2 separate regions of the Homo sapiens genome follow, and region 1 is linked to region 2. A link means that fine-mapping ties the variant in region 2 to the plasma level of a protein whose gene starts in the linked region. Region 2 holds a variant in brackets. A gene starts in the other region. All regions are shown on their forward strands.

Region 1 (4,387 bases), not on the chromosome of region 2:
GCAACATCTAGCTAGTCTTCCCTTAATAAACCTCTACTCTCCATCACCCACCATCTCAAACCCTGATCAAAAAATGGGTTCTCTTTCCACGTATGGTGACTATTAGGATCAGCTACATAATTTGTGGGACCCAGTGCAAAATGAAAAGGAGAGGCCCCTTGTTCAAAAATTAAGAATTTCAGCATTAAACCAAGTGCAGGATGCATGTCCATGAAGCCAGCCCTGCTATCAGATCATGTATTTGGCTAGAAAGTTGGTAAGAAAAGTAAAATATTTCGCTATTAAATGAGTAGTGAAGGAAATCAAATCATTTTACCCCAAAATATATTTCTTTGACATATTTTGAAATAGTTGACATATTTCTAAATATTGACGTATTTAGAAAGCCAGCCAGTAGAGCTAATGCAAAGCTGTCCTTGGTGCGGAAGATTTGCATTTGTAGAGAATCTGCACGGATGTAGCCAGGCTTTATCGAGGTCCTCCCTTGTCCAGATCTAAGAGAAATTAACTGAGGATCTGACCCCTTTAAAGGTCTGAAAGAAACATTTACTGTTTATTCTCTCTGAGGGCTGCCACCTGTGAGGTTTCATTGACATCTCCAGACCATTTTTGCTGGCCAAGCCTCCTCTTCTCCCCCTCTCACAACCTCTTTTACCACCATAACCTGTTTGGGGCCATGCGTTGAGACCCCTTTCTTTCTGTAACCTCAAGATAATCTACATGCTTCTGTACCCCATTGGGGGGCTGGGGGTAATCACTCTATTGTTCTCTCCCCGTGGACACATTAATACATTTGCATGCCTTTTCTCCAATCAATCTGTCTTTGTCAGTTAATTTTTCAAGCGAACCTTCAGGGGGCGAAGGGAAAGTTTCCCTTGGCCTTTATAGTAGCAAGTGTTTTTGCGTGCGTTTGGGGGTAGAGGTGGCAAAGAGGTATTAAAGCTATACATACTGTAAAGTCTTAGGACCTCGTCTCCCAATCTCCCACTTTTCCTAAGGTTTTCAGCCTGCTGGACAAAAAGTACTTCCGTAGGGCCTGCCGGATAAAGTGTGGTCCATGGAACAGCATCAGCAGCCACTGGGAGCTTCTTAGAAATGCAGACGCTCGGCCCCCACCCCAGACCTGCGGGATCAGAATCTCATTTTAACGGGATCCCTGGGGGATTATCGTGCACAGTACAGACTGTCACTGTCGAAGCAGCCACGGAAAACCTGTCCCCTGCTTCGTCTGGCTCTCGGGAGGTCAGCTCTCTTCTTCCCCCTCACTTTTTATCGGGTTTCGGAGCCTCGAAACTCGAGTCCCTGCCGAAATGCGCTCACTCCGAGACCACGAGCCCCCTCCTTCCCCGGCGTGCTCACCCCCTGGCTCCGGGCCGCCGCTCCGTCCCTCGGTGCCCGGGGCCACCTGTTCGGGGCCGCGCCGAGTGGTGCCGCCCCAAGCCGTCCGGGGCCCGGGCGCGTTCGCGCTCCGCCAGCACCGCCGCAGCCCGACCAGGCGCGCGGAGCCGGGCTCCCGGGAGTTGGCGTCTAGCACACCACCCGCGCGAGTCAGGCTCGTGGCTCAGTTTCCCGCGGGTTGGGGAAAGTACGGCTCCGTCCGAAGGTTTTGGAGACGCGCGTCTCCCCTTGGAGCCTCCTTTCCCACGGCGCGCGGGCTCCCCCAGTCGGGGAACTAGCCCCGGGGCTGGGAGCTACGCCTCCGCCTTTCAGGATGTTCCCGGGCCCCGGCTAGGAACAGCAGCCGGGCGGAAGGCGCGTTCGTCCCGCCGGCCCGCTGGCCCGCCGCCCTCCGGGGCTAGACGCTGCGCCCGAGCCTCCAGCGCCCGTGGCCGGCTGTGCGAGTCTGGGTCTCAGGACCCCAAGGGGCCAGACCCGTCCTGGCGCCGAGCGCTTACCTGCCGCTCGCGTCCTCGGGGCTGGCTGCTGGCGCCGTCCGGCCCGCCTTTTCCCCTCTCCGGGGCTGCGGCCCTCCTCCCCCCGCCCGCGGCCTCGGCGCCGCCCCCGCCGCTCCCGGCCCGCTCCGCCGCCAGCTCTCCAGCTGCCCAGCGCGGCGTGGCGCGTCGGGCGCTCGGCGGCGGCGAGGCTGGGCGCGGAGGTGGGGAGCGGGCGGGGCGCGGAGGGAGGAGGGGGAGCGGGCAGCGCGGCCGGCCGAAGCCGGGCTGGGAGCTCGGGGCAGGGGCAGGGGCCGGGGAGAAGCGGGGGCGGCGAGCTCGGCCGCCCACCCCACCGCAGCCGGGGGCCCCGCAGCGCTCCTGGGCTCCAGGCACTGCGGGACCCTCAGATGCCCGGCGTCCAGCCCAGCGAGCTCCTCCTTGGGGACCCCAACGGACCCCAACCTCCAGACTCAGCGGCTCACCTTTAGGGCTCGCCCCGGTACCCATATGCCCGTTTCAGTGTCGCACGCTGTAATGGGTGGGAGCCCCGAGGGCGCACTTCTACCAAGATATTCCTGAATCCGGAGATCAGATGTCAGACCACTTGAGAGGGGAATTTGGAGAGAGCAGTAAACGAGAAATGTCCCAGTAAAGGATTCAGTTCGATGGTTTTCCTGGTGAAGGACTGGAAATACACCGGGTTCCCAGAAACCGGGATCTCGGGCGCTCTGCCTGCTGGGGGTCGAGGTGGAGGGGGTATATAAAGTGAGTTGTCCCTGGTCCCCTCTACCTTTCTGTCTCAGCATCTCTCCTCCTGCATGGTCATAGAATAAAAACTAGATCTGGATAGGACTTACAGATCCCCTAAGCAATTTGTCAAAGTACCCTATTTTACAGATGGGAAAATGGAGGCTCAGTTCTACAATACGAATTAGTTGTAGAGACCAGGGAAAAAATAAGCGCTCTGAATTCCCTTTCCGGCTCATTTTACTGCCCCCCTCCCCCGCCGCCTTTATAGTCGAATAACACCTGTGTTTGCAAAATGCTTTGTCGTTTTAAAGGCATCGTTCTCTTTCGTTAAACCTGCGGGAGAATATACCATTTTTCCTTTACAACTAGAACAAAATTCTGGATTCTGAATTGCATTCACAGCCCTGGAGACGCGATGGTTATCAAGTGCAGATCTTTAAGGCATATCCTGGCTGACTCTGCCATTTTAGACACATGATGGGCGAGATGTATATTCTGCTTTGCAGGAGGGGTTGAATTTGTTTTGCAAACACCAGTTTATTAACACTCACAACATTCTAACTGAATAAATGAATGGACAGTCTTTTCAGAGAGACTTTTAACTGATTGGATTAAGGGAGAGTAGAGTCAGGAAGCTCATCCAGGTTACATAAATTAAAAGTTTTGATGAAGGGGAAAATGGTGTATTAAATAAACACACCCGGTATTACTCCAACGGGTTAAATTGGTTCCGTTTGAATGAACTTAACACGTATTTTTAACTTACATATAACTTTTGCATATTAACTTCTTTATTTTTGCTTTACATAGACCTCATACCTAAAGAATTTTCATACACCGCTAGTGGGAGTGTAAATTTTTACAAGCATTTTGGAAAACTCTTTGGCAGAATCTATTAAAGCTGAGAGTACAACTACCCTCTGACCAGCAATTCCCCTTCTGGATGTACACACAACCTCAATCAGTGTGTATGTTTACCAAAGGATATGAACTAGAATATCATACCAGTATATTTGCAATAGCCCAGATTGGAAATGACCCAGATGCCCACCAACAGAATGGATCGCAGACATTGTGATGGTATAGTCACAAAGCGGAATCCCAGACAGCAATGAGACTGCATGAACCACTGCTATGCTTAATATAGATGAACCTCTGAAACAATGTTGAGTGAAGAAGTCAGGCCCAAAAACACAGACACTATATGATTTTGTTTCTGTAAAGGATAAAACAGGCAAAACTAACCTATGCTGTTAGGATAGCGGTCACTGGAGAATAAGAAGGGCTTACAGGTAATGTCTGGCTTCTTGATCTGGGTACAGTTTAAACGGATCTATGAGCACTTTTCTGTATGTATGTCTCACGTCAATAACAAGTTAATATATGTCTATCTCATATTAACAGTTGCTTGAATTTCTAAAGTTAAGCGTGATACCAGAGTAAGTATGCTTTTCCTTTAAACAAACTTGCTGTTTAAAAAAGGACTTTAAGGCTCTTTGGGAGGCTGGGGTGAGGGGATTGCTTGAGCCCAGGAGTTCAAGACCAGCCTGAGCAACATAGTGAGACTCCATTTCTGTAAAAATAAAAAATAAAAAAAAATCAGCCAGGCATGGCGGTGCATGCCTGTAGCCCCAGCTATTGATTATTGTGAATAAAGGCAATATAAATATTCACATACAGCTTTTTGTGTGAATATAAACCTCTATTTCACTTAGGTAAATACCTAGAAGTAAGAGTGCTATGTCATATGGTAAGTTTAGCTT
Region 2 (4,387 bases):
TTAAACAGGCAAAAGCTGGAAGAAGACTCTCACCACTCCTATTCAACATAGTACTGGAAGTCCTAGCCAGACAACCAGGTAAGAGAAAGAAATAAAAGGCATTCAAATAGGAAAAGAAAAAGTCGAACACTCTGTCTTTGCGGAGAGTATGAATCTATACATAGAAAACCCTACAGAGTTTGCCAAAAGGCTCCTGGAAATGATAAACAAATTCAGTAAAGTTTCAGGACAGAAAATCAATGTATAAAAAGCAATAGCAGTTTGATATGCCAATAACATTCTAGCTGAGAACAAAATTAAGAACACAACCTCATTTACAATGGTCACAAAGAAAATGAAATACCTTCTCTCTCTTTATCAGCGGTCCTTGAAGTGTGTCCCACACAGCAGTAGCACCATCACCAGCTGCAACACTGTTACAAACGCAGATTTTTCTGGCCCTACCCAAGATCTACTGAATCAGAAATTCTGGGTGTGGGTTCAGCAACCTATATTTTAACAAGCCCTCTGGGTGATTCTGATGCATGCTAAAGTTGGAGACCCACGTTTGATCTTCATTGCACGCCTGCCATCCACCGGGGAGGGCCCAGATGATCATCCCTAGGTTGCAGAGGAGGCAACCGAGGCACAAAGAGGTTGTGTCTTGCCAAAGACTCCACAACTATTCTGCAGGAGAGCTGTGAGTAGGACTCAGGTCTTCTGACATCGAGTCCAACTCTCTTTCCATTTTCAACAAATATGTATTGAGTGCCTGCCATTTCCAGACACTGTTTTAGGTGCTGGAAAAGCTGCAGGATTTAGTACAAGGTTCTTCTGTAGCTCACAGATCCATGAGAGCCTGAGAACCAGTTCTGGAGGCCCCAAAGCCAGGAACAATGACCCAAATCTCATGCCGCAGCTGCACCCTGTAGGAAGATGGGGTTGGTTCAGGCCCTTTTTGGTGTTCCTGGCTTCAGATTCAGAGGCTGAGGTGACAGTGCCTGACTGGCCCAACTTGGGTCATGTGCTCATATAATAGCGGGAGGTAGTTTCTGCTTCAGAAGGTAGGGCACTCCCAAATGTAGGAAGGGGGTTCAGATGCTGGGCAGTCAAAAACGATAACAAGTGTTTGCTATGAAATATTCCCTCTGGACACCCTTTTTCTTTTGGGAAGCCTTTCTTCCCTACTCACAGTCTGTGTGCTTCAGTGGTTAGCACATATCCTGATTGGCTTCAGCCCAGGACTTTTTTTTTTTTGAGACGGAGTCCCACTCTCTCTCCCAGGCTGAGGTTCAGCGGCACAATTGCACCCCACAAACTGCAACCTCTGTCTCCTGGGTTCAAGTGATTCTCTGCGTTAGCCTCCCGAGTAGCTGGGATTACAGGCACCCACCACCATGCCCGGCTAATTTTTGTATTTTTAGTAGGTACGGGGTTTCACCACGTTGTCCAGGCTGGCCTCAAACTCCTGACCTCAAGTGATCTTCCTCCCTCAGCCTCCCAAAGTGCTGGGATTACAGGCATGAGCCACTGTGCCCAGCCCAGCCCAGGATTTTTGCTAAAGCAATTGAGAATGAGGCCCTCTCTGCTGAGGTTGCCAGCTATCAGGATGTCAGCCAAACTGGTGCTCACTTTGCCACCACTTGAAGACAGCCTGCCTAAGAGTGAAGTCACCACAAAAGAAAGCAAAACCAAGTGATAGAAAGAGACTAAGTTAGAAAATCCCTCCCCACATTCTTTTTGGTGAGGTTTATTTTGAGCAGCATTGTTGTCACTTGCATTCCAAGCCTTAACAAATGGATAATTTACTTTTTTTGTAAATGAATGGGTTCATACTACGCATGCTATTCTTGAATCTTG[CT/C]TTTTTTTTTCTTTTTCCATTAACAAATGTCTTGGGCACCTTTCCATGTAGGTAAATACAGACTGCTGCATTTTAAAAAAATGATTGCGGCCCGGCGATGTGGCTCATACCTGTAATCAATCCTAGCACTTTGGGAGGCTGAGGCAGTCGGATTGCCTGAGCTCAGGAGTTTGAAACCAGCCTGGGCAACACGGTGAAACCCTGTCTCTACTAAAAATACAAAAAAATTAGCCAGGCATGGTGGCATGTGCCTGTAGTCCCAGCTACTTGGGAGGCTGAGGCAGAAGAATTGCTTGAACCTGGGAGGTGGAGGTTGCAGTGAGCCGAGATCACACCACTGCACTCCAGCCTGAGCGACAGAGCGAGACTCCATCTCCAAAAAAATTTTAATAAATAAATAAATGATAGCATGAAACACCATTCAGCAGACGTACCATAATTTATTTAATCATTTAATTTTTATTTCTATTTTATATTTTTTGAAATGGAGTCTCACTCTGTCATCCAGGCTAGAGTGCAGTGGTGCAATCTTGGCTCACTGAAACCTCTGCCTCCTGAGTTCAAGCGATTCTCCTGCCTTAGTCTATGGAGTAGCTGGGATCACAGATGCCCGCCACCACACCAAGCTAATTTTTGTATTTTTAGTAGAGACGGGGTTTTGCCATGTTGGCCAGGCTGGTCTTGAACTCCTGACCTCAAGTGATCCACCCGCCTCGGCCTCCCAAAGTGCTGGGATTACAGGCATGAACCACTGTTCCCAGCCCATTTAATCATTTTAGAATAAGGCACAGTTGAGGCCGAGTATGGCGGTTCATGCCTGTAATCCCAGCACTTTGGGAGGTTAAGGGGGGTGGATTGCTTGAGACCAGGAGTTCAAGACCAGCCTGGCCAACATGGTGAAATCCCATCTCTAATACAAAAAAAAATAGCCAGGTGTGGTGGCACATGCCTGTAATCCCAGCTACCTAGGTGGCCGAGGCACGAGAATCGCTTGAACCTGAGAGGCAGAGGTTACAGTGAGCTGAGACTGCACCACTGTACTCCAGCCTGGGTGACAGAGCAAGACTCTCAAACAAACAAACAAACAAACAAACAGAAACAAGCACAGTTAGCTTGTTTCCAGTTTTCTGCTCTTATAAAAAATACTGCATTGGACAGCGCTTGTAGCAGCCAGGGTCCCACCAGGAAACAGATGGCACACTTGGCTGAGGAGCTGGGGAATGCTTACTAAAGGACCATTTACAGAAGTATAGGCAGGATTTACTAAGAGCCACAAGGGATGGTGCAGTACTCCAGGGCTGGTAATAGTACAGAGCTGTTACCATCCCAGGCCTGAAGGGGAAAAGGGGAGAGCAGGTACTGGAATTCTGCAAGAGAGAAAAATTGCAGAGACCTACCTGATAGGAGCTACAGCCTTTGGTAGAGGGACAGAGCCAACCCACAGCAACTCAGTAGGGAGCTATCCTCAGAGGAATAAAAACCTCTGACCTCACTCTCCTCCTGCCCTCTGATCTCCTGCCAGTGCTCCTCATTAGTAAACCCTACTGGAAGCTAGAGTCTTGGAGCCTGCTGATATAGTTCATGCAGTCAGCCTTCCAGGGCACAGAACAGGGTGAAGAGAAACAGCAGGGACAAATGGACGATGTCTAGCACCTTGCTGCTCAATCTGGGGTTCTTGGACCAGCAGCACTGGTATCACCAGGGAGCTTGTTAGAAATGTGGCATCTTGGGCCCACACCAGACCTGCTTAACCAGATCTAGCATTTCAACAGGATCCCCAGGTGACTCACCATACCATACATTAAAGTTTGTGAAGCACAGATCCAGCACATCTTTCTATGCAAGTATAGCTATAGCCTTATTGTTTATGAATTCTCTTCCAGCCTTTTTTTTTTTCCATTGGTCCCTGTGTTGGTTTGGATCCTCTAAGAATCAGATGCCTAGATGTTTGTTTGTTTGTTTGTTTTCTGGGAAAAATACCTACAAAGGACAAAGAGGGAAAGTGTGTAATCCCAGCATTTTGGGAGGCCGAGATGGGTGGACCACTTGAGGTCAGGAGTTTGAGACCAGCCTGGCCAACATGGTGAAACCCCATCTATACTACAATACCAAAAAAATTAGCCAGGTGTGGTGGTGCGTGCCTTTAATCCCAGCTACTTGGTAGGCTGAGGCATGAGAATCGCTGGAACCTGGGAGGCGGAGGTTGCAGTGAGCAGAGATCACACCTCTGCACTCCAGCCTGGGCGACAGAGTGAGACTCCGTCTCAAAAAAAAAAAAAAAAAAAAGAGGGAAAGGGGAAAGTCGGGGAAAAGGGATGGGGAGCCCTCAGACCATGATGCAGGTCTGATACTTGAGAAAGGAGAATGGGAAGTGACGAGGGAAAGTCTCAGCCAGGCAGATGGGGGATTCCCAAGCACGGGTTGTGTCCTATATCATGCAGATGTGGCCAGGTTCTGGTACCACACCATGCTCGGTCACTGACTGGGAGTAGCCAGAGGATACCACAAAGGATCCAAAGGCATAGCCACTGGGAGCTGGCAGTCAAC

Which allele goes with the higher level. Alleles are on the strand shown, and positions count from the first base shown. The strength of an association depends on the size of the effect and on how common the allele is.
For the plasma level of the protein whose gene starts at base 1,922 in region 1, allele CT in region 2 goes with a lower level than allele C (weak association).

The links. PIP is the posterior inclusion probability: the model's chance that the variant is causal. The UK Biobank Pharma Proteomics Project read protein levels with antibody pairs (Olink). The fine-mapping took linkage between variants from a reference panel, not from the people measured, so its PIPs are less certain.
Region 1: ADGRG2 starts here. The variant in region 2 is fine-mapped to the plasma level of the ADGRG2 protein (UK Biobank, PIP 0.98).

What each region holds. Positions count from the first base shown.
Region 1 is chrX:19,120,547-19,124,933 of GRCh38, forward strand. It overlaps ADGRG2 (adhesion G protein-coupled receptor G2), which reads right to left and starts at 1,922. Exons shown (of 29, transcript NM_001079858.3): 1 at 1,896-1,922.
Region 2 is chr9:98,798,705-98,803,091 of GRCh38, forward strand. LOC124902229 (a long non-coding RNA gene) reads right to left here. Exons shown (of 2, transcript XR_007061689.1): 2 at 1-905. Among named protein-coding and RNA genes, the nearest start is that of ANKS6, 4.3 kb to the left of the region's middle. The variant CT/C (reference allele first, on the strand shown) is at 1,840.